Linked DNA regions of Homo sapiens. The protein of the gene in region 2 purifies or fractionates together with the protein of the main gene of each other region. This does not show direct contact. Each region holds a gene or a part of one and is shown on either strand. Other genes may lie near its edges.

What was found.
Region 1: the proteins of RAB31 (region 2) and AMMECR1L purify together in Homo sapiens (affinity purification with mass spectrometry; one large-scale study listed by BioGRID and IntAct). This does not show direct contact.
Region 3: the proteins of RAB31 (region 2) and TRIM4 purify together in Homo sapiens (affinity purification with mass spectrometry; 4 studies listed by BioGRID and IntAct, with this or other methods). This does not show direct contact.
Region 4: the proteins of RAB31 (region 2) and SCO1 purify together in Homo sapiens (co-immunoprecipitation; one large-scale study listed by IntAct). This does not show direct contact.

What each region holds. Positions count from the first base shown.
Region 1 is NC_000002.12:127,868,064-127,873,908, reverse strand, and holds part of AMMECR1L (AMMECR1-like protein), read left to right. Parts: coding exon 1-81; intron 82-2,549; coding exon 2,550-2,660; intron 2,661-2,980; coding exon 2,981-3,095; coding exon of another isoform or gene 3,096-3,147; intron 3,148-4,364; coding exon 4,365-4,455; intron 4,456-5,845.
Region 2 is NC_000018.10:9,709,992-9,715,836, reverse strand, and holds part of RAB31 (ras-related protein Rab-31), read right to left. Parts: exon of another isoform or gene 5,844-5,845; intron 1-5,843. UniProt on the Homo sapiens protein: The small GTPases Rab are key regulators of intracellular membrane trafficking, from the formation of transport vesicles to their fusion with membranes.
Region 3 is NC_000007.14:99,892,701-99,897,859, reverse strand, and holds part of TRIM4 (E3 ubiquitin-protein ligase TRIM4), read left to right. Parts: intron 1-5,113; coding exon 5,114-5,159. UniProt on the Homo sapiens protein: E3 ubiquitin-protein ligase. Mediates 'Lys-63'-linked polyubiquitination of the innate immune receptor RIGI, this linkage doesn't lead to proteasomal degradation but seems to enhance IFN induction.
Region 4 is NC_000017.11:10,679,761-10,685,605, forward strand, and holds part of SCO1 (protein SCO1 homolog, mitochondrial), read right to left. Parts: intron 1,494-5,845; coding exon 1,359-1,493; 3' UTR 1-1,358. UniProt on the Homo sapiens protein: Copper metallochaperone essential for the maturation of cytochrome c oxidase subunit II (MT-CO2/COX2). Not required for the synthesis of MT-CO2/COX2 but plays a crucial role in stabilizing MT-CO2/COX2 during its subsequent maturation.

The DNA.
Region 1 (5,845 bases), on a different chromosome or scaffold from region 2:
CTGCTACTGCTTCGACGTACTCTACTGTCACCTCTATGGCTTCCCACAGCCACGACTTCCTAGATTCACCAATGACCCCTAGTGAGTAAATCATGTGCTGGGGGCACTGAGGAAGGCATGGTGACATCTTTCTGGGGTGATTCTCTTGAGAGGGTCTGCTACTTGGAAGTCTTTATTATCATTTGAGGAAAGGGTAATGGGAAGAGAATGATAAGAAATGTCCAGAGAATATTTAAAACATTCAGTGGATTCAGTAATGGAAGGGAGCAGTTCACATTTGGAGGAGGCTGTAGGCTTGTTGTTAAAGTAATGTTCTGGAAATCAAGTGAGTTCATTCTTGGCTCTTCTGTTGGTTCACATGGCAGTGGGTATGGCATTTAACCTCTCAAGTGGGGAAGTCACGCCATACCATTGGGGACACCCATAGTGTTGAAGTCCAGGTGAGTTGGAAGTCTGAGGGCCAGGCTGGAGACTAGGAGCTCTCATTCACTGGGATCTGCGATTTGGTTAACAGGGGTCCCCTCACTTTGTTCATGAGAAATCCCTTGGTAAACCTGTAGGGCCACTCACATCCCATCAAGAAGTCAGAATCTGCTTCAGTATTTTTAGTTCAAGATTCTTTGTTGCTTGTCCCAAGCCCTCTACTGGTCTCAGTGACTTAAATAAGCAATATGTATAAAGTAAACTGAAGAATTCCATGCTAGCATTTTCTTCTTCCTCAGAATTGGAAGCCGCTCTGAGCTGGCTTTGAAGAGCATTGCTGTTTTTTTATTTTTGTTTTGGGGGTATGCTTTTGGAGTGTTCATTGATATGAGATTATTCATTCCTCAGTTGTTGATTGCCATACGGAGACTACAAAACCTTGGCTGGGGCATGGAGAGGGTGTGAAGAAAAGGAGCCTCTTCCCTTGGGAGGCCTGTCAGGTTGGCAAATCACACACGCACAGAGCTAAGGGGAAGTTGTTCTCTGTGAGTGTGTCAGAGGAGAGGAAACCTGGAGGGAAGTGTGCTCGGTTTTTTGGGAACCGTCACCCTGGGGTAACATGGTTAGAAAACACCTGACTGAGCAGGTGGAGATCCCAAGCCTGAGTGAGATCCAGGGTGCCCCACGTAAGAGAGAGATGCAGTTTGGAAGAACAGGTGATGATGTGGGTGTTTAGGGAAGGTTTAGACTGTTGTATTCAAGGCTTTGCATTTCCATCCTGCAGGCAATGGAGGCCTTGTCTTGAAGGATTTTTCAGTAGGCTTTGGGGCTGCAGCTTTGGCTGGTGCTGTGCAGGTGCTTTATTGGGAGGAAAAGATGGCTAGATGGGACAGCTGCTGTGGGGACCTTTGTGACAGTGATCAAAGCAGATAACTTTGAAAACTTAAGTTGCCTCTAGAAATGATTAACTCAATCTAAGAGGTAAGGACATTAGAGTGTGGAGGGATTTCAGGAAGAGGGAACAGGCCTTGAAACCTCTTGCTAAAAAATCTGTCACTGTCAATCTGATATAGCCTTAATGAAGTGTGACTTTGGCCTAGAAACAGAAAATGGCAACTCAGCTAATAAAAAGGTTCCTTGGCTGGGCGCGGTGGCTCATGCCTGTAATCTGTAATCTCTCAGCACTTCGGGAGGCTGAGGTGGGAGGATCGCTTGAGCCCAGGAGTTCAAGATTAGCCTGGGCAACATAGTGAGGCCCCCCTCTATTTTTTTTTAATCTTTTTTTTTTTTTTTCTTTTTGAGACAGAGTCTCAGTCTTGTCGAGGCTGGAGTGCAGTGGCACAATCTCGGTTCACTGCAACCTCTGCCTTTCAGGATCAAGTGATTCTCCCACCTCAGCCTCCCGAGTAGCTGAGATTACAGGAGCCTGCCACCACGCCCAGCCAATTTTTATATTTCTAGTAGAGGCGGGGTTTCGCCATGATGACCAGGCTGGTCTAGAACTCCTTACCTCAAGTGATCCGCCCACCTTGGCCTCCCAAAGTGCTGGGATTACAGGCATGAGCCACTGCACCCGGCCTTTTTAAATCTTTTTTTAAAAATTAAAAAATGTTTTTTGAGGGAACTTTTTTTTCTGAAAATTTGTGAGTGGAAATATTTGTAGTTGTCAGGGGCAGACATGATCATGGAAGCAACATGGGTTTGCAGATGAACGGGGCTGTGCAGGTGAGGCGTGTCATCATGAAAGACGGAGCGGGGGAGCATGGCTACCTGGATAAATAGACTTAGGGAAGAGGAAACTGGAGAATTCGAAGGAAAAGTTGAGTCTTGGGCAGAGAAAGAGGAAAGTAGCATGTAAATTTGGCGGCAAAGTGAATTAAAGCTGTCAGCATGGAACATGGGAACCACTACACGGAGCCTTTCCTTATGCTGCCTTGTAGGTTTCCCGTTTCCAGCCAGGGGCTGTGCCGTTTTCAGAAAGGCAGAGAGTCCTTCGGGTAGCTGGCAAGTCCAAAAACAGGGATTTTTGGCAATAACAGAAATGAATAGGGACAAAGCCAAAAGGTTTTGTTCTTATCCATGATTAATTTGGGGCTGGAGAATGTTTTGTGTTTTGCTTTTTTTAGTCCGCTCTTTGTGACGTGGAAGACAGGGCGGGACAAGCGGCTTCGTGGCTGCATTGGGACCTTCTCAGCCATGAATCTTCATTCAGGACTCAGGGAATACACGTTAACCAGGTAATGACACCAGACATTAAGAACTGTAGATAAATTGGCTAGAATCAGAAATAGCTGCCTGACTTTATTTCTTCTAAGTGATGTACGTTGAGCTTTCTCTTTTTGGTAATCAGGAAATGTAAGGGGCTTAATCTGGTGAGTCAGTTATCAGTTCAAGTACAGACAGTTAATAGCATCGAGTTGTTTTTAACATGTTAGTGTTGATGAACAATAGATACTCTCTGCATAGCTCAAGATTCATAAATATGTGGGCTCTATGGCACCTGATATTGGCTCCTGACTCCAGAGCAGCCTTACCTATGTTTTCTGTCCCCCTCCAGTGCACTTAAGGACAGCCGATTTCCCCCCCTGACCCGAGAGGAGCTGCCTAAACTTTTCTGCTCTGTCTCCCTCCTTACTAACTTTGAGGATGCCAGTGATTACCTGGACTGGGAGGTGAGAACAGCCGCATTTGGAACTCTGCATCTCTCGTTGCATTTGGGTTCGGGTTAGTACATGGCAATGTATCTCCTTCATTGAGAGAAAGGGTATAAGAATGTGAAGGCTGAGTTTGGAACCAATTGTGGGCAACATAGGTGACAGAAGAGGTGCTGCTATACCAGGAGTAGGCAGAAGTGTCAGTGGAAAGGCTCGCTTCTCCTGATTCTCCCTAGTCTGCTTGGTTTACATCCTTCTCCCATGTCTAATAAGAGATAATGGGGTAAAAGAAAATATTCCAGATCCTTCTTGGCAAGCCCTGGAGTAAAAGTTTTTGTTTGCTTGTTTTTTTTTTTGAGATGGAATTTCGTTCTTGTTCCCCAGGCTGGAGTGCAGTGACGTGATCTCGGCTTACTGCAACCTCTGCCTCCCGAGTTCAAGGGATTCTCCTGCCTCAGTGTCCCAAGTAGCTGGGATTACAGGTGCCCACCACCATGCCCAGCTATTTTTTTTTTTTTTGAGACAGAGTCTCGCTCTGTCGCCAGGCTGGAGTGCAGTGGTGCAATCTCAGCTCACTGCAACCTCCACCCCTGGGTTCAAGTGATTCTTCTGCCTCAGCTTCCTGAGTAGCTGGGACTACAGTCGCGTGCCACCACACCCAGCTAATTTTTGTATTTTTAGTAGAGATGGGGTTTCACCGTGTTAGCCAGGATGGTCTCAATCTCTTGACCTCGTGATCCACCTGCCTTGGACTCCCAAAGTGCTGGGATTATAGGCGTGAGCCACCATGCCCAGCCATTTGTATTTTTTTAGTAGAGACAGGGTTTCACCATGTTGGCCAGCCTGGTCTCAAACTCCTGACGGCCTTGGCCTCCCAAATTGTTGGGATTACAGGCATGAGCCACCGCGCCTGGCCAAATAAAAGTTTTTATTAGGAATCAGATGTGAAGGATCATGACCCCAGATAAAAACCTTGTGGCATGTTTATTTAATGGAATAGGGTCAAGGAACATATTCACAATTCCTGGATGAATTACTTAAAGAATGCATTTCTCCTACCTTCATATTCTCAGAGTTGGCTGCACATACTCTCGACCCTTCCCTAAAAGCAGAACTTTCTTTGGCCTCTATACCTCCTGAGATAGAATTAGTCATGAAATGCGAGAAGGTCTCCCTTTTCCAGGCCTGTGTTAAGCTGGTCAGGGAACAATGTTGATTTATATGTGGGGACTGAAGTTCCATTAGAGTAAGTAAATGCCATTTACTTGGTTGTACTTTTTTCTATAGGTAGGGGTCCATGGGATTCGAATTGAATTCATTAATGAAAAAGGTGTCAAACGCACAGCCACATATTTACCTGAGGTTGCTAAGGAACAAGGTGAGTTGGATGAATGGGATTTTAATGACAAGTATCATTCACAGTGGTGCCAGTTAAAGGGCAAGAAAGTGAAGTGTGTCATCTTGCAGCCCAACTGCAGCTGAGAATGAGGGCCTTTCTGCCTCTTAATACCTGTCAAATTCCTATAGAACCAAGGGTAAACTTCCAAAAAGGTTTAGGAGCTGGGAAAAGCAAAAGGGTAAATCGTTCACTTACTCGCCTGATATTTCAAACACTTCTTTTCAATGAATAGTTTTATTTCTTAGCCCCTTAAACTACAGTGGCAATTGTAGCAAAATACCACCAATCAACCTGACCATATTGTAGAATTCAGTAGGTACCGAACTTTGGATCACAAATCATTAAACAATATTATACATGGCAAAGGGTGTAAACATAGTCCCTACTGTTTTTTAAAGAACTCAGTAGTCGGCCAGGCGTGGTGGCTTACTCCTATAATCCCAGCATTTTGGGAGGCCAAGGTGGGCGGATCACAAGGTCAAGAGATTGAGACCATCCTGGCCAGCATGGTGAAACCCCGTCTCTACTAAAAATATAAAAATTAGCTGGGCATGGTGGTGCATGCCTGTAGACCCAGCTACTCAGGAGGCTGAGGCAGGAGAATCACTTGAACCCAGGAGGCAGAGGTTGCAGTGAGCCAAGATCGTGCCATTACACTCCAGCCTGGTGACAGAGCGAGCCTCCATCTCCAAAAAAAAAAAAACTCAGTAGCCTATAAGTTCTTCTGATGGGGACGTTAAAGGTAGGGTGGATCGAGCAGATTTTGTCTTTAAAAGAATATCTAGAAGGGTACCTTTACATGTTGCTTGTGCATTCTGTGATACGTAGTGCAGTTTTCCTTCTTTCTTGGAATTAGTCTGATTTTGAAAATAATATGTGAAACACAGTATTTGTTGGGTATGAGCCTAGAATAGAGAAAAAATACCCGGTGAAGTGTATATCATGAGCAAACATGGAAAACGATTGCCTGGTTGGTTTTTATTTTGCTTGTGCTTAAACTTTTTCAAGAGCAGTGTATATGTGGCATAATAGCAAACCTTTTAGCCACCTCTTTTAGGTCATAAACCTAACACACTCTGTACAAGGAGGCATACCATGTTTTGTAATGGGGAGGTGTAAATAATAACTTAAGTAAATAATTAAATTACTTTTGCCATTTGAAAGTTGGTTGGAAAAATAAAAACTTCGGAGCACCTAGCATAGTAATTTAGGGGATTTTCTTTGGTTTTTCAATTTGATGAAGTTGGTTTTATCTGTTAAGAATGAGGCTGGGCACGTTTGCTCACATCTGTGATCCCAGCACTTTGGGAGGGCAAGGTAGGTGGATACTGGAGCCCAGGAGTTCAAGACTAGTCTGGTGGCGAAACCT
Region 2 (5,845 bases):
AGACAGGCTGGGCACAGTGGCTCACGCCTGTAATCCCAACACTTTGGGAGGTCAAGGCAGGCAGATTGCTTGAGGCCAGGAGTTCGAGACCAGCCGGCCAACGTGGTGAAACGCCATCTCTACTAAAAAAAATACAAAAATTAGCTGGGCATGGTGTTGCACACTTGTGATTTCAGCTACTCAGGAGACTGAGGCAAGAGAATCGCTTGAACCCAGGAGGTGGAGGTTGCAGTGAGCCGAGATTGTGCCACTGCACCCCAGGCTGGTTGACAGAGCGAGACTCCATGTCAAAAAAAAAAAAAAAAAAAGAGAGAGAGAGAGACAAAGGACAAGTGACAAAATGTTACTCCTGCTGAATCTAGGGGACATTCATAGTCCTTTCAACTGCTGTGTAAGTTTTAAATTTTTCAAAAAAAAAAAAAGGGGGCAAAGGGAATTAAAAATAAAAGACCCAGTGCTAGAGAGACAGGGAGTAGGGGGTGTCAATGGAAGAGTGGGCAGGCTGGGAGGGGAGGGACTGTGCCAGAAAATACAGTGAGATCCAAGCCCCCTGCCAGGGCCTGGAGTGCACACCCACCTTTCCTTCCCTGTCCCTTTAGGCACTGTTCAAATCCTTCCTACTCCAAGAAACCTTCCCAACTCCCCACTTCACAGCCCCCGCTGTATTTGACTCCCACCATATCCCACTATACATGCAACACCTCCTGCCTCACACCCATCAGCAAGGGCCGTGTTCCTGTGCGTGTGGCACAGGAACCAACCAGAAGCCTCTCCATCCCAGGCAGGGACCAGATCCCTGCCTGACCTACTTTCTGTCTCTAGCAGAGTTAGCACAGCACTGTGCGACAGCAGGTACCCAAGACAGACCTGGAGCAAGAACTTTCTGTCCCTCCCATGCCGTCAAGTCTACTAAGCGGGATGACAGTCAGTATTTCTCATCATCACAACACACTACTTCTGTTCCGCATGGTGGGCCATGGTAAGCACCATAATAAGAATCCAGTCAATGCCACAGAGCTCACTGCTGGTGTGTTCGTGTCTTTGGGAAGGCAACAATCACTGCCATCCTGTCTACATGCAGCCACCCACAGCTCCCAGCATAAAAGAAACACTCCACAAATGGTGAATGGCTGAATGAATGAATACCTATTCCATTTTCAAACACATGTCATAAGTGATAAAAACTAAGATAAATGAAAGTGTAAAATCTGCACAGGCATGCAAACACCAAATAAGCGTTATCTACCAGGCTTAATTAAATTTTAAAGGTCTTTTCCAATTAGTGAACTCAAAAGCTTTTGCGTTCTAGCACAGAGGTCCCCAACCCCTGGGGCGGTACTGACCCATGGCTTGTTAGGAACCAGGTTGCACAGCAGGAGGTGAACAGTGAGTGAGCATTACCAGCTGAGCTCTGCCTCCTGTCAAATCAATGGTGACATTAGATTCTCACAGGAGTGCAAACCCTGTTGTGAACTGCGCATGTGAGGGATCTAAGTTGCATGCTCCTCATGAGAATCTAACTAATGCCTGATGATCTGACGTGGAACAGTTTCATCCTAAAACCATCCCCCGCCTCCTGCTCCCATCTGTGGAAAAATCGTCTTCCACAAAACTGATCCCTAGTGCCAAAAAGGTTGGGGACCACTGTCCTAGCATCTTAAAATGTAAAGTTTCCTATTTTCTCATGGCTGTGGCCTTAGAGCAGACCTAAAGGATATATCACACTCACTAAAACAGTGTCATTGGGCCAGGGCAAAAGTAGAGGCCACATGCCTGAACACTATTGACAAGGTACTATGGAATTAATATTTGTGTCCCTCCAACAAAATTCCCATTTTGAAGCCTAACCTCCAATGTGAGGATATTAGGAGGTGGGCCTTTGGGAGGTGCTTAGGTTGTGAGGGTAGAGCCTTCATGAATGGGGTTGGCGTCCTTATAAGAAGAGAAAGAGACCGAGCACTCTCTCAGTCATGTGAAGTTACAGCAAGAAGGCAGCTGTCTGCAAACCAGAAATCGAGCCCTCACCAGGCACTAGATCTGCCAGCGCCTTGGTCTTAGACTTCCCAACCTCCAGAACTGTGAGAATTAAATGTCTATTGTTTAAGCCCTCCAGCCTATGGTATTTTTGTGACAGCAGCTCAAATTAAGACATAAGGGATGGGGGAAGGGACCATGAGAAGCTTGAAAATGCTCCTCAAATGATTCTGATACACACTCCAGAGATGCACTGAGCTCTGAAAGCTGAGGGAGGATGAAAGCAGCAATGCTGACCCTGAACAAAGGAGGAACAAAGGGACCCTGATGGATTCCATCAGCCTGGGATGGGTGCATAAGACACAGTGTTACCATATGCCAGGCACTGCTGGGAAGATAGCCCACTATATCATATTTATTCTCGTGTAACATAGAACGTACCCAGAGTCACCAATGCTGAACATACTTTCCACAAATGGTTCAATTTAGTAGAGGAATCAGTTGTGCCAAGAAATAAATGCTGTGGCTAGCCACTCAACCCTCCCCACCATCCCCCTTCCCCAAGAAATGCCAGTCTCGGGAGAAAAAATAGTAAGTTACTAGAATCTCAGACTTGGAAAGCAAATGTGATCATTACCTAGCCCAACCCACTATCCTATGCATTACTTCCTTCCACAATAACACTAACAAATTCTTATCACCTTATTGGATACTCTGTCATACAGTGCTCATAGCAACTCATGTGAGGTTGCACAGTTCTGATGATCTGCCTTACTGTGAGTATAAATCTGTTCTACTCTTGCGTCCTAGTGTCCCTGGGGAGACAAGAGGCCTTCCATGCGAAGGCCCTGGACATAGGTGAAGTACCCATTACCCAGATGTCTCACCAAATCCCAGGTATTTGACTGCTCTTTAATGAGCCACCATATACATTCCAACAAAGATCACAAGATGCTTCAACAAGCTCCTTACCAGAAGCAGGGAAGCCATCGGCTCTTTTAACTGATCACTCAGCTATTGAGGAAGTGGTAGGAATTTCTAAATTGTTGTCAAGACAACCAAAGTCCAAATATAAATCTCTTTGGGATTCCATCAGGAAGCAGTTTTTAAGTGCACGCAGTTTTTAAGTGCACGCACACAAATACCCCAAGGAGATAACAAAACAAAGGTCCCCTCCTTCTCTTTCTCCTCCTCCCCACTCTCTCCCTTCCTCCTGCTTCTTGCCACATGGTGATGTGTGTTAAAAATGCATACTGGGAAACTTTTCCACCTTTGGGGTTGAAGCAGCTGCTGCCTCAGTGTTGTTTTTGTTAAGTATTTTTTGTTGTTGTTGTTAACATACTTTGTTGCCTTTAAGCTTCATGTTTCATAATACCAGTTCAGATCACAAAGTGGGACGAATGACACTTTCCTGGTAAGAAGGAAACTCATGGGGTCCTGCCCAGGGTGCTTCCCCCTATCAAGCACACCCTCCTGCACGGCTGACTTCCACAGGTGACTCGGCTCAGGCCAGGAAAGGGCGTTCACAAAGGCTTGCTGGGCTGTCCCCATGTGGAATAAACCCAAGAAAGTCCACACATGAAATGTGAGCCAAGAATTTATAACAGGTAACCTAAACAAACCCAACGCTCTTCAGTCCTTGGTTTTCCAAGAACACAAAGCATTCAGAGAATGTTCCACAGGCCATTATCCATCCCATGTGGGAGCATTCACCAATAGAAATAAGCTTGGACATTCCTAATGTGCCAGGAAGACAGGAGAGGTTCAGGTAAAGAAGACCTGGCACCCGGCCCACTTTCACTCCCACCTGCTGCAAATGACTCTAACGTCAGGAGGTAAGACCTCCGACCCCATGGATGGAGCAGGAAACTACAGCAAAGAGTGACCAGCAGGGAGCCTGTGCTGAAAGCGCCTACTGCCCATGCCTAAAACAACCTATACCTTAAATGCGAAGCATGTCCCCAAGTCCCCACTGAGCACAGTACCAGGCACAAAAAGACCAACCCCTCAGCCTTCCCAGTGAGAGTGATATTTTGTTATGAAGTCTATGTTCTCTATCACCTTATAAGGGAAACCCGACAGAAAGTGATTCTAACAGGCAGAAAGAAGGTGTGGCTGTCAGGGTCTTGGTCATAGCAAGACTTCAGGGAGGTGTCTCATGGCTAAAAAACAGGAAGCTGAATGCCAGCCACACACAAAACTTCACCCAGAAAAGACAGACCTCCCTACGCAAAGCACAAATGAGCCCAAGGTTCCTGTTAAAATGTTGAAAGAGCCTGGGCAACATAGGGAGACCCCATCTCTACAAAAATAATAAAAAGTATTAGCTGGGCTGGGTGGTACACACCTGTGGTCCCAGCTACTTGGCAGGCTGAGGTGGGAGGATCACCTGAGCTTGGGAGGCTGAGGCTGCAGTGAGCCAGGATGGCACCATTGCACTCCAGCCTGGGTGACAGAGTGAGACCCTATCTCAAAAATATACATATATTTTTTAAAGGACTTTTGGACTTAGCACTGACTGATCCACAGGGTCTCTCGAATCAAGAGAATAAACCTAGGCTGATGCAGAAGGATCCACTGAGCCCAGGAGTTGGAGGGTGCAGTGAGCTATGATGGCACCACTGCACTCCAGCCTGGATGACAGAATGTGACCTTGTCTCAAAACAAAAAAGAGGAGAGAGAGAGAGAGAGAAGAGAGTAAACCGAAGACAGTCAAATGGTTTTGATCTCCCTCAATGTTATCCCACCCAGAGAATCAGCCTAATTGGATGAGCAGCTAGAAACACAGCCTGCTGCACACATCTCACCCAGGAAAGAGCCAGCCAAACGAGGGGATGTGGCAAATCTTACTCAGTGTGGACAACAAGGTCATTTGGTCTTTCAAATAAAATGTCCTCTGATTTCAATAAAACTGAAACTTACAGCCACCCTCAAAAAAAAAAAAAGGAAGCCACAAATGTGGTGTGATATGACTGATGTTTCTTTTCTTTTGTTTTCTTTTCTTTGAGATAGAGTCTCACTCTGTCGCCCGGACTGGAGTGCAGTGGCGTGATTTCGGCTCACTGCAACCTCCACCTCCCAGGCTCAAGCGATTCTCCTGCCTCAGCCTCCCGAGTAGCTGGGATTACAAGCATGCGCCGCTACCGCCCAGCTAACTTTTTTTTGTATTTTTAATAGAGACGGGGTTTGACCATGTTGGCCAGGCTGGTCTTGAACTCCTGACCTCAAATGATCCCCCCGCCTCAGCCTCCCAAAGTGCTGGGATGACAGGTGTGAGCCAACGCGACCGGCCACGATTGATGTTTCAAAGCCTCCGTCTGCCCAGAAACCTCTTCTTTCTCTGCTTTGGCATGGTTCTTCCAACTCCAAGTTCAAATTCCTACACACAGAACTGGCAAAGGTAAGGCACTGTCTGCAGGAAGCCACTCAAAGAGTGTGTATCTTTCTTGGAGATAAAAGAAGTAAAGAGATTTCCTCCAGCTTCCTCCTCTCCCAGGTTTGCTAATTGGCACCCTGAACTCATAGATTAGCAGGAAATGGTAACATGTATCTTAAGAGATCATCTGGTGTAGTCCTCTGCCTAAAGGGGGAACATGTTATTATGCCCATTTCATAGATGAGGCCACTGAGTTGCTTTGCTAAAACGACACAGCTCTTTGGTGGGAAAGAACGAGAGCCTAGGTTTCCTGCCTCTTGACACAGGGTTCTTGCCACCTGATCAGTGTCCTGGTAGGAGGACATAGAGACCTGTCCCTAAACACCGAAACTGAAAATAAGGGGTCCTGTGACACGGCAGGGCTTGGACCACCTCAGTAAAAGTCAAGAGAAAAGAGTTGCAGAAAAAAAGGCAAAAATATGTCCTATTTCACCT
Region 3 (5,159 bases), on a different chromosome or scaffold from region 2:
TGAGAGCACCACCCCTGGCAGTGGCCTGGCGCCTGGTTTATAATACAAAGTGGATTGGGCCCTTTGCAATGCTTTGCAAGTGGCCAGAGTAAGACAGTGGGGGGTATTATAATGTTCTATAAGAGGATGATTGTCCCCTTGCACAAGGAAGACTGGGATTCATTATTTTGGAAATACAGGGGGTTGGGGAGTAGGATGTAAAATAGGTGTGACCTGTATATTCTTTTCTAGGCCTTTCCCCCATGGAGTGCAAGAACCGACTTGAGAAATCTTTTGTTCTTTTTTTTAGTTGCTACATAATAATTTTACATATTTATGAGGTACAGTGTGATGTTTCAATACATGTATACAGTGCATAATGATAAAATCAGGGTAATTAGCATATTCATCACCTCAAACATTTATCATTATCTGCATCGGGAACATTCAAAATCCATTTCTACTAAGTGGGAGAGTGTAAAATCCCAGGGAGGGTGGGATCGACTGTCTCCCACTCTGTTTGAACTTACTTCCCAGCTTCACCATTTCCACAGCGGTATAATCCTGCATTGTGGTGGTCTGCCTTCTTTCAGGTGGAGGCAAGTCTTGTAGGGCTACCCTCTGTGGGTGTGGTTGGTCTTCTTTTATCTTGGTAGTGACCATCAGACATGCTGAGAGGATGGGAACCTCTATGGACTCATCCCAGTCCTCATCCTCCCTGCCACTAGATCTCTTCACGGGGTCCCAGGACTTAGGGTTCCAGGACAATTTAGTCATGATAGTCCTAACTCCATGTGGCAGTCAGTGACCCTTCAAACAGGCTATGCAACAAACCAGTGTCTCCATTTTGTCATCCTGTTCCCACAGGTGGGACAGAAATTAGCCTGAGCTAATATCTCCCTAGTTGCAGCTCATCTTGTAAGTGGTACACCCTTGCCTGTGCCACAAGCTCAACCTTGGGGGCTGCTCTAAGCACAGTCAGGACTGGCCGGCCAACTGCAGCTGCCACAGCTTGGGCATTTGACTTTCCCTTAGTTGGATCCACCCCCTGCAGCAGTTCTTCCAGAACTTTTGGCATTTTGGGGGTATCCCCATACTCACCTGGTGGGCCCCACCCATCAAGGATAGTGGCTATTGGGCCCCACATACATGTGGACAACCAGCCCAGGATTTCCACCGTGGATTCTCCCCTGATCCCATTGTCTTGGCACTCGTGGAATTTTCTCCAACCTCCTGCTGGGCTAATTGTTGTGCTAGACCCCTATTGATTTCAGTACGGATGGCACTGTGTCTGAGAGGTGGAAGAAACCTGGAGCCGGTGAATGAGACATAGGATTTATTGAGGACTTATATGCTGGGTGGTCCAGGAGCAGTGGGCTGGACACGAAAACCAGTTGCTACTGTTTGTAAAAAGCATGCAGATTATATAGCATTTTCACTTAGCAACCTGCTCCTAACAACCTCCATTTAACCCGAATCAAAGGGCCTTGATCCTCTGTACAGCCTGCATTCCAAGAATGGGCCAGAGGTTCAGATGTTCAGATGTCCTTCCTAGAAAAGGAGCAGATCTCTGAGTTGGCCACTCCCACATTTCTTAGCTTGGAAGTGTGAACCCACATTCTACTTGGACCATAGGGTCATTGTTAGGGTATGCTTGAGTTATTGCTGTCAGGTGCATCTGCCATACGATACCATAAACCTTAAACCACTAAAATAAAAGAGATGTAGCTAGTCAATAAAAGGAAATAAAGTGGAATTATAAAAAAAGATTAATAAAAAATAAGGCAGAAAAAGAAGAAAACATATAGGACAAATAGAAAACAGCAAAATAATAGACACAAATCTAATCATACTAATAATCACATTAACTATAAATGGTCTGCATGCGCTAATCAAAAGGCAGAAGTTGGTTGGATTGGCTAAAAAAAAAAAATAAGACCCAATTTTTTACTGGAAAAGAAACACATTAAATATGAAGAACCATATACGTTTAAAGCAAAAGAATGGAAAAAGATATGTTAATAGATCTGGAGTGGGTATATTAGTATCAAAGTAGATTTCTGAGCAAAGGATATTACCAGAGATAAAGAATGTTATATCCTAATGATAAAGTGGTCAGTTCGTCAAGAGAATGTAAGTTCTAAACATTTCTGCACTTAACAGTGCTTCAAACATATTAAGCAAAAACTAATAGAGCTGCAAGAAGAAATACACAAATTCACAATTACGTTTGCAGTTTTCAGTACCTTTTAATAATTTTTAGAATAATTAGGCAATAAATCAGCAGGGATATAGTAGACTTGAATAATATTATCAATCAACTTGATCCCATTATTTATAGAACACTCTACCCAACAGCTATATACTACATATTTTTTTCAGTGTACGTGAAACATTTTCCAAGATAGACTAAGCTGGCTGTAAAGCAAGTGTCAAATTCAAAGGATTCCGATCATTCAGAGTATGTTCTCTGATCACAATGGAATTGATAGAAATCAGTATCAAAATATCCTTAGAAACCCCCCTAAATATCAAGAATCTAAATAATAGACTTTTTAGTAACCCTTGAATTAAAGAAGAAATCAAAAGGCAAATTAGGAAGTAGTTTGAATGGAATGAAAAGGAAAAGACAATATACCAGAATTTGTGGGATGCACCTAAAGCAAAACTTAAAGAAAAGTGTATAGTGCTATATTGGAAAGAAGAAACTTCTCAAATCACTGACCTCAGCTTCCACCTTAAGACACTAGAGAAAGAGGAGCAAGTAAAGCCCAAAGTAAACAGAAGAATGGAAATAATAAAAATCAGAGCAGAAATCATTGCAGTGAAATACAGAAAGCCAACAGAAACCAATGAAACCAAAAGCTGGTCCTTTGAGAATTTCAGTAAAATTGACACACCTTTAATCAAAATGATCAGAAAAAAAGAAAACACACATTACTAATGTCAGAAATGAGAAAGGTGACATCATTACAGATTCTGCAGATATTAAAAGGATAATAGAATATTAAGAGCAACTTTTTGCCAATAAACTTGACAATATAGATGAAATGGATGAAGTCCTTAAAAGACACAAATTACAAAAGCTGACTCATGAAGATAGAGATAACTGGAATAATCTTATTTCTATGAAAGAAATTGCTATTAGAAACCTTCCAAATGGCTTTCGTTTTGTTTCTTTTCTTTCTTTTCTTTTCTTTTTTTTTTTGGGGGGGGGATGGAGTCTTGGTCTGTTGCCTAGGCTGGGGCGCAGTGGTGCAATCTCAGCTTACTGCAACCTCCACCTCCCAGGTTCAAGTGATTCTCCTGCCTCAGCCTCCCAAGTAGCTGGGACTGCAGGTGCGCGCCACCATGCCTGGCTAATTTTTGTATTTTTTTTTAGTAGAGATGGGGTTTCACCATGTTGGTCAGGCTGGTCTTGAACTCCTGACCTCGTAATCCACTGCCTTGGCCTCCCAAAGCATTGGGATTACAGGCATGAGCCACCGCGCCTGGTCCCCAGATGATTTTCTTGGTGAAACATTTCACCAAACATTTAAGAAATAAATGCCAATTCTTCAAGAACTCCTATTGAAAATTGATGAAGAGGGAATATTTCCCAATTCTTTCTGTGAGGCCTGTATTACCATGATGCCAAAATCAGACAAAGACGTCACAAGAGAAAAGAATTATACATCAATGTCTCTCATGAACATAGATACCTAAATTCTCAGAAAACTTTAGCAAATTGAATCCAACAATATATTAAAAGGATAATATGTAATAATCACAACCAATTTATATATCCTTTGGTATACAAAAAGGATAATGTATAATAATCACAATATGTGAGATTTATCCCAGAAGAGCATAGTTGGTTTAATATTTGAAAATCGATGTAGTTTATATCACTAAAGTAAAAAAAAAAAAAAAAGGAAAACCATGTGATTGTCTCAGTGGAAGCAGGAAAAGCATTTGTCAAACTCTAGCATACATTCCTGATTTTTTTTAAAAAAAGTCCTCAAACTCAAGAGACATGGAGAGTTAGAGGGAAGGGAATTTGGAGTCAGGGAGGCCAGGGAGGACATTATTAACACATTGAGTGACACTGGAGATTGGAGTAAAGGCAGTGGCAATGGGAGTGGAGGGGAGGAAAAGAACCTGAGTGACAAATTTCAGAGGTAGAATTGGTAGGACTTGGTGACTAACTAGCTATTGAAGGTTAGAGGAAAGAGTCGAAAATAAAGATTTAAAAGCATGAGTGTTCAGGTGGAGGGGACTCTGACACCTTAGAGAACATAGAAGGCAAGATGTCTGCATATGAAGTGGATTAGTCCCGAGAGTATAGAAGGGGGTGTAAGTAAGATAATTAGTTCAGTTTTGAATGATCTGTGGGGAGATTTGTGGAGATGCCCCATAAACAACTGGAACCCGTGAAAAGAGACCTCATTATTCTGTCCTATGTGACACCTGTGTGTATCTAGCCAAAGAACCAGCTAGTCGGCAGCCTTGGTTCTAGTTTTGATTCAACGTGAGAATTTGTTAATATCTCTCCAAATTTTAGGCTGTTTGTGAAAACTTGGGGCATGAAATAATTAGATCCCCAGTTTCTAGAGGTTAGTCTTTTTTTTTTTAAAGATAGAATCTTGCTCTGTCACCCAGGCTGGAGTGCAGTGGCACGATCTCGGGTCACTACAACCTCCGCCTTCTGGGTTTAAGTGATTCTTCTGCCTCAGCCTCCCCAGTAACTGGGATTACAGGTGCCCACCATCATGCCGGGCCAGTTTTTTTGTTTGTTTGTTTTTTGGTATTTTCAGTAGAGACGGGGTTTCGCCATGTTGGCCAGGCTGGTCTCACTCTCGTGACCTCCAGTGATCTCCCTGCCTCAGCCTCCCAAAGTGCTGGGATTACAGGCATGAGTCACTGCGCCTGGTCTAGGGCTTAGTCTTTTAGAGCAGAAGGGAAATGAGGACTTCAGGTTGCTAAAGGCCATGCTGTGGCCTGCTAGGCCTGGCTGAGGATCAGTTGGGCAGCAGTGGAGTCATGAGTGTTTGTTAGGAGGAGAAAGATGAAACTGATGCTGGAAAAGATGGGCATTTCTGGGGAAGGGTTGATGATAAGCTGCTGCACTACTTAGCTCTCATTTTCTCCACAGTGGCTGTAAACCTAGCTGAAGACACAGCTCATCCCAAACTCGTCTT
Region 4 (5,845 bases), on a different chromosome or scaffold from region 2:
TCATTTTAATTTCTGTATCTCTACATAGATATATCTAGAGGGTCTCACTCTGTTGCCCAGGCTGGAATGCAGTGGTGTGATTATAGCTCACTGAAGCCTTGAATTCCTGGGCTCAAGTGATACTCCATTTCAGTCTCCTGAGTAGCCAGGACTACAGGCATGTGCCACCATGCCAAAAAAATCTTCTGTAGAGATGGGGGCGGGGGGGGGGGGTCTCACTATGTTGCCCAGGCTTGTCTTGAATACCTAACCTCTAGCAATCCTCAGGCCCTGGCCTCCCAAAGTTTTGGGATTATAGGCATTAGCCATTGTGCCAGGCAAGTTATTTCCCCAAAAAACACTTTCTTAAGGGATGGTCCCAGTCCGCCAGCATCCGAGTCACCTGGGGTATCTGTCATGGAAGCAGGTCTCTGCATCATACTGCAGATTCAGTGAATTCAGCTCTGGGTCTGGGGAACTGCACTTCAGCAAGCGTCCCACCCACCTGCCCGCTGGAGCCTGTGGGTCTCTTTCCTGAGAACTGTGTGCAGCCATCTATGTACCCACTCATCACCCATGAAAAAGATCACGCTTGTCTGAACAGCAAAACTGAGTATGTTTACTTTACACAAAGTACAATCCAGTATATGCAGAAAGGTACTCAGCATCACACTCGTGATCAATATCCTCTTATTTCCATTTGGTATGTCACTGAAAACCTGGCACACCACTTAGCTAAAAATCACATAAAAGAACCCCTAGAGAAATCAAACTGATGTTTTTTTTCCCCCAAACAATAGATTTCCTCTTCATTAGTCAAATCTGATAGTGATATTCATTAATAAGGAAAACTAAAGTTTTCAAGCATCAACTCTGAATGGCAGAGACCCTAATCTGACTGTTATTAGCCACCAAGAACTCAGAAGAGCAAAGAACTCAAGAAGAGGCAAGCAAGAGCACTATGGAAATTATATTCTTTTCTGTGAAATTCAGTCCCACAGCTATTTGAGCAAGGGCCCAAGACGATGGAGAGGCGGCAAAGCTGCTGGGAGGGCCTGTTCGCAGGCAGGAATGCACTGGCTGTGCCTCGCCCCGCCATGTCCTTCCACAGGTGGGCTCTTCACTGGCTTCACTTCAGCTTGATCCTCTGGTCTCCCCACAGCTTCCTGGGAGACTTTGGGTTGTAATCTTTACAGTTCCAAGAATCAATTTTGGTTGAACGCAAGGGTAACATCCCCATCCAAAACAGAAATGTTCTCATGGTATGAAGGCCATTCTGTAGAGTGCACGTATATATGTTTATATTTATATAGGCTCCTATGCGAGACAGTTTCCTTCCTCTTAGCAAGAGAATACTGCATCCAGCAACACTGCTTTGGCTAGCTCTTTTTTCTGTATGGCCTCATGTGTGTGGCAATTGAAGCAGCTATTTCTCCCTTCCTCTTGTTCTGGCCAAAATAATCTAGAAACTCACCATCTGGTCCAATCAAGTACATTATTATTGTGTGATCCACCTGCAGAGAAAAGGGGGGAGAGTGTGACAAAGATTACCAAAATAAGCTGCTTATTTTACTGAATGTATGCTGCAAGATAAGAGAACTTTACATTAATGCTTAAATAACCTTTACAGCATCTATTATTTATGGAATAGGCTTAAGTCTATCATAGCAAATTCCTAACAAAAATTGTCTAAAATCTTTTGTGTCCTAAACATCTGCACTGGTTATTGCTTGTCACATCAGCTAGAACCTGAAATTCTTTTGGTTTAATCCTTAACATATTTACCCACACACTCTGAGAAAAGAATTCACCTTCTAAGAAATAGCTGCTGCAGGCTTTCATAAAGCAGTCAATGTTTGTGGAATAGCAATGCTTGTTGAAAAATACCTTCATTTTTGAGTAAGATATCTCCTCAGACCCTAAACATGTTACAAACAGACATCACATGGAATTAAGTGTTGGTGAAAAACTGCTTTCTTTAGTAAGTTCTTGGGTTTATTCATGTTTTAGAAAGAACTGGTTGTCATTCATTACTGCCAAAATTCTGCTTACCACGCTTTATGAGAAGAAATCAGAAAACTAATCATTAGTTTAAATAATCTATAAATTTGAACAATATTTAGTTTTAATATTAGTAATTCAAACAGAAACAGGAAAAGAAACATTTTTCTCCCCAAGGAAATTTTTGTCTCCTCCACTGAATAATCCTATCTGAAATCAATCCATCACCTGGAAAGCAAATCCTCGGGAGCATAAATGCTGCCCCCCTAACCAGAGAGTCATCGTAAACTCAGCATCCATTTTCCCAGCAAAGTCCTAAAATGGTCCCAGCTCTAACTTTAACTTAGATTAGTCATCAGATTTTTTAGTTAGACACTTCCATAAAATCCAATTTTAAGTGAGATTTGGCACTTAGAGTCCTTGGAATTTATTGCAGGCTTGACTGCTATTTGGCAAGACAAAGAAAGACAGGAATGTGACTACAAATACCAAACTGGAGACACCTCCCAAACATACCCCAGCACGCACTATATGTCTGTGAGGGTATTATTTTTTATACACACATTCTTAAGATAGCAAATGGAAAGAGCACTTGCCTACCCACATAAGGAAAGAATGTACACCAAAAGAGCGCCAACAACTGGATTCCAAGTGCTGTGGGATAGTTCACCGCAGGAGCAAGACGGGGGGCTACGTTTCTCCACATATTTGATACAGAAATCAGAATTAAGTCTCCAGTTCTCTCTTCAAGCCTTACTCTGTAGCTTACATCACTCTTTCTCCCTATTTCTTCCTTTTCTCTATTCTCTGTTAAAAAAAACAAACTACAGTATGTGGGACTTATTTTCTGAGTGTTCTTAATATAAATTACCTTGTAGTACACAACAAAAATATTATTTTATCTGTATCTGTCGAACTTGTCAGAGGTCACTCCTCAATATTCCTTTGGGTTGTGACAGAGCACATTGACATTTATTCTAATACAGAGGTCTACAGAGGTCTTCCAAGTTCTAGTACTTCCTTGTATAGAAAAAGGACACTAGCATTAACTGACAAATTCTTTCACATGTCATCTTAAGCCATGAAACAGGTATTCTCCTCCTCTTCAAATGATATCACAGGCTGGAGAGAGTAAATTATATAATTGGTAAGTGCCAGGCCTAACTTTAAAACCTAGAATCTGTCCAGTTTCAAAGTCCACAAACTTTTATCACCACGTTGCCTCTAGCTCCAATTCTAATGGAGAGCAGCAACTCAGTTTTTCTAGTGTGCAAGTTACGTTTTAGTGTGAATTATTTTTTGAAAAGGTAATATATGCACATAGAAAACGAATATCCAGTTAATGTATACAATGAAAATGTCCCTCCCCCTCTTCACACCCAGAGTGCCTCAGTTCCCCTTAGAGTGAACCAATGCCATCAGTTCCTTCTGTATCCTTCCGAAGAAATTCTCTGCATCTACTATGTGTATATATCCACTACCACTTATTTTTTTTATACACAAGTAACAATATATTCTACAGTACTTGCTTTCTCATTTAACAATATATTGGACATTGTTCTACGTTAGATTATACACAGTAGTTAAAAAATGGTTACTGGATTTTCAGTTTTTTCTCTTTAAAAACAATGCCATAGGGTATATTTATAGGATAAAGTCCAAAAAGTAGAATCTCTTGCATAAAAAGTATATAACTTTAAATGTGAGAAATACTGTTAAACTGCCCTCTGAAGAGGGTGTATGAGTTTAATTCCTATCAACAATGCATGAGTGTGCCTGCTGTTCCAAATTCACTCCTGCAGTTTATTTCCTGCTTTTCCAATTTCGACAATATATTTTCAGATTTTCTGACCACTGCTGAGCCAAGAGAAAAATGTTACCTCATTATACAATTCACATTTCTTTTATTATGAAACTGCACATTTAGGTTTGAAAGCTATTTGTATTCTTTTTTCAAAAGTATTTTCTAACTAATATCTATATAATAATATAGTATTATATATATATAATACAATAATGTGCAGATCCAGCTTTCTATGGAATTCCAAATATTTGGTATACCCAGTTCGATCACTCTGAAGAGTCCACTCAAAAGCCAGAAGCTTGCCTGTTGTTGCTGTCGTTTGGGATTAAGAAAACTTCATTCCATTACATCTCAACATTAACCTTAAAGGTACCCCCTTACTTCCTGCAGGTCCTTAAATGATAACAGAAGTTTCCCAAACCATCCTATGGATGAAAATCTGTGACCTCAAGGGACTGAAGTCATACTAATGAAAAACCTAAGAAGCTGAAGAATGTCTCCCCCTATTGGATGATTTAGCAAATGTACAGCATGAATTCCTCATCGAATCTCATCAAAAGTCAAATTCTTATGGCAGTAGGCCAGTATTTCTCAAAATGGGGCCAAAGATACATTCTACAAGGTCCAAGAAGTTTCCATAAGACTTACATATTTTTGTTTTCATTTGTAATTAAAAACATTAATATCCATATTCTGGATTATCTGTGTTGTGAGTATAAATTTCAGTGCCCAGGCTTGTGTTTGCTCCATGATCTCACTGGCACCTAGCTGCCCACTGCTGTTACAGGCAGACATGAATATGATACATTCTTGCCAAATCAACACTAACCAGGCAAGGCAGGCTACACGATTAAAGGTTTCAAAGTATTTTAAATAGAAAATGCAGAGGGGCAGTTGAGTAGAGTTGGGTATGTGATAGCAGTCTGACCAAAACCCCCTCCCTTCTTGCCCTGAGCAGCACTTTGGTTTCAGCAAAATCTCTTGTCAATGTAACTGAATGTTTTCAATTTAAGTTTTGCAGGCTGTTTGGGTTTATTTGTACAACTGCTTTCTGATTTGACTTTCTGACTCTGAGTTATGAGTTCTAAGCATCAAGACTATGGAGTGTTACCTAGTTTAGGACTGTATACATTTAAACAATTTAATATAACTCATTTAATGCTGGAAATCAGACTGATGAGCTCATCTATTCCTGCTGTCATCATCGGATAAACTCAAAACCAGTTAATACAACTCTCTATAAAGACAGAAGTCCGGAAAGTCCTTTTCCTATGGTTTCCTCTTTTGGCCACTGTGGCTCTCTGCTCTTCTCTCATTCTGCTAGAGAAGCAGCAAGAGGAAAACAGAGGAGGGTCCCTCTACTTTCCTTACAATTAAGGCTTAAAGAAAAGTGCTCATTTTTCTCATCTTTTACTCCAAGGAATCCAAGTTTCCCTAATTCTACGAGGCACCACATCTGGAAGACAGGATTACTGTGTAGGCTTAATTAAGGCAAACAGGCCAGAACCTTGCTTTTAATTCAGGCTGTAGGCTCCAGGGGCACACACGTTCCAGGTTCAAAGGGACAAAGAAATCATAGTTGGCTGTTGAGACAAAGCACTGCAGTGAGACATCCCATCCCCTCTGCATCTCAACTCTTGGGATGGGCCATGGGGAGCTGCTGGATCAGTGACTCAGGGTCTTGGCCATCTTTCTTTCTACAAAGACAGCTTCACAGCTAGAAAGGCTCTTAGGATTACTCTGCCCAAACAATATTATAGAAAAAACAGAGTATGACAACTAAGAAAAATACTGAAATAATGCTAAAATACAACGCCGACTCTTCATATGATAGGAGAAAAATGTCCAAATTGAGAGGAAAATTGGTGGATAGTGGTGGTGCTAATGCCTTTTGGTGCTTCACTGTGAAACCACTGACAAGAAAAGAAACACAGTAACTTGGGCATGACCTTAAGGCTTCTGGGGCAGTGCTGATGAATATGAAGATAGTTAATTTAAGAGCTACACAAGTACAACAGAATTTCTGTTCCTTATCATTAAAAAGCACATATTTAACGCCTA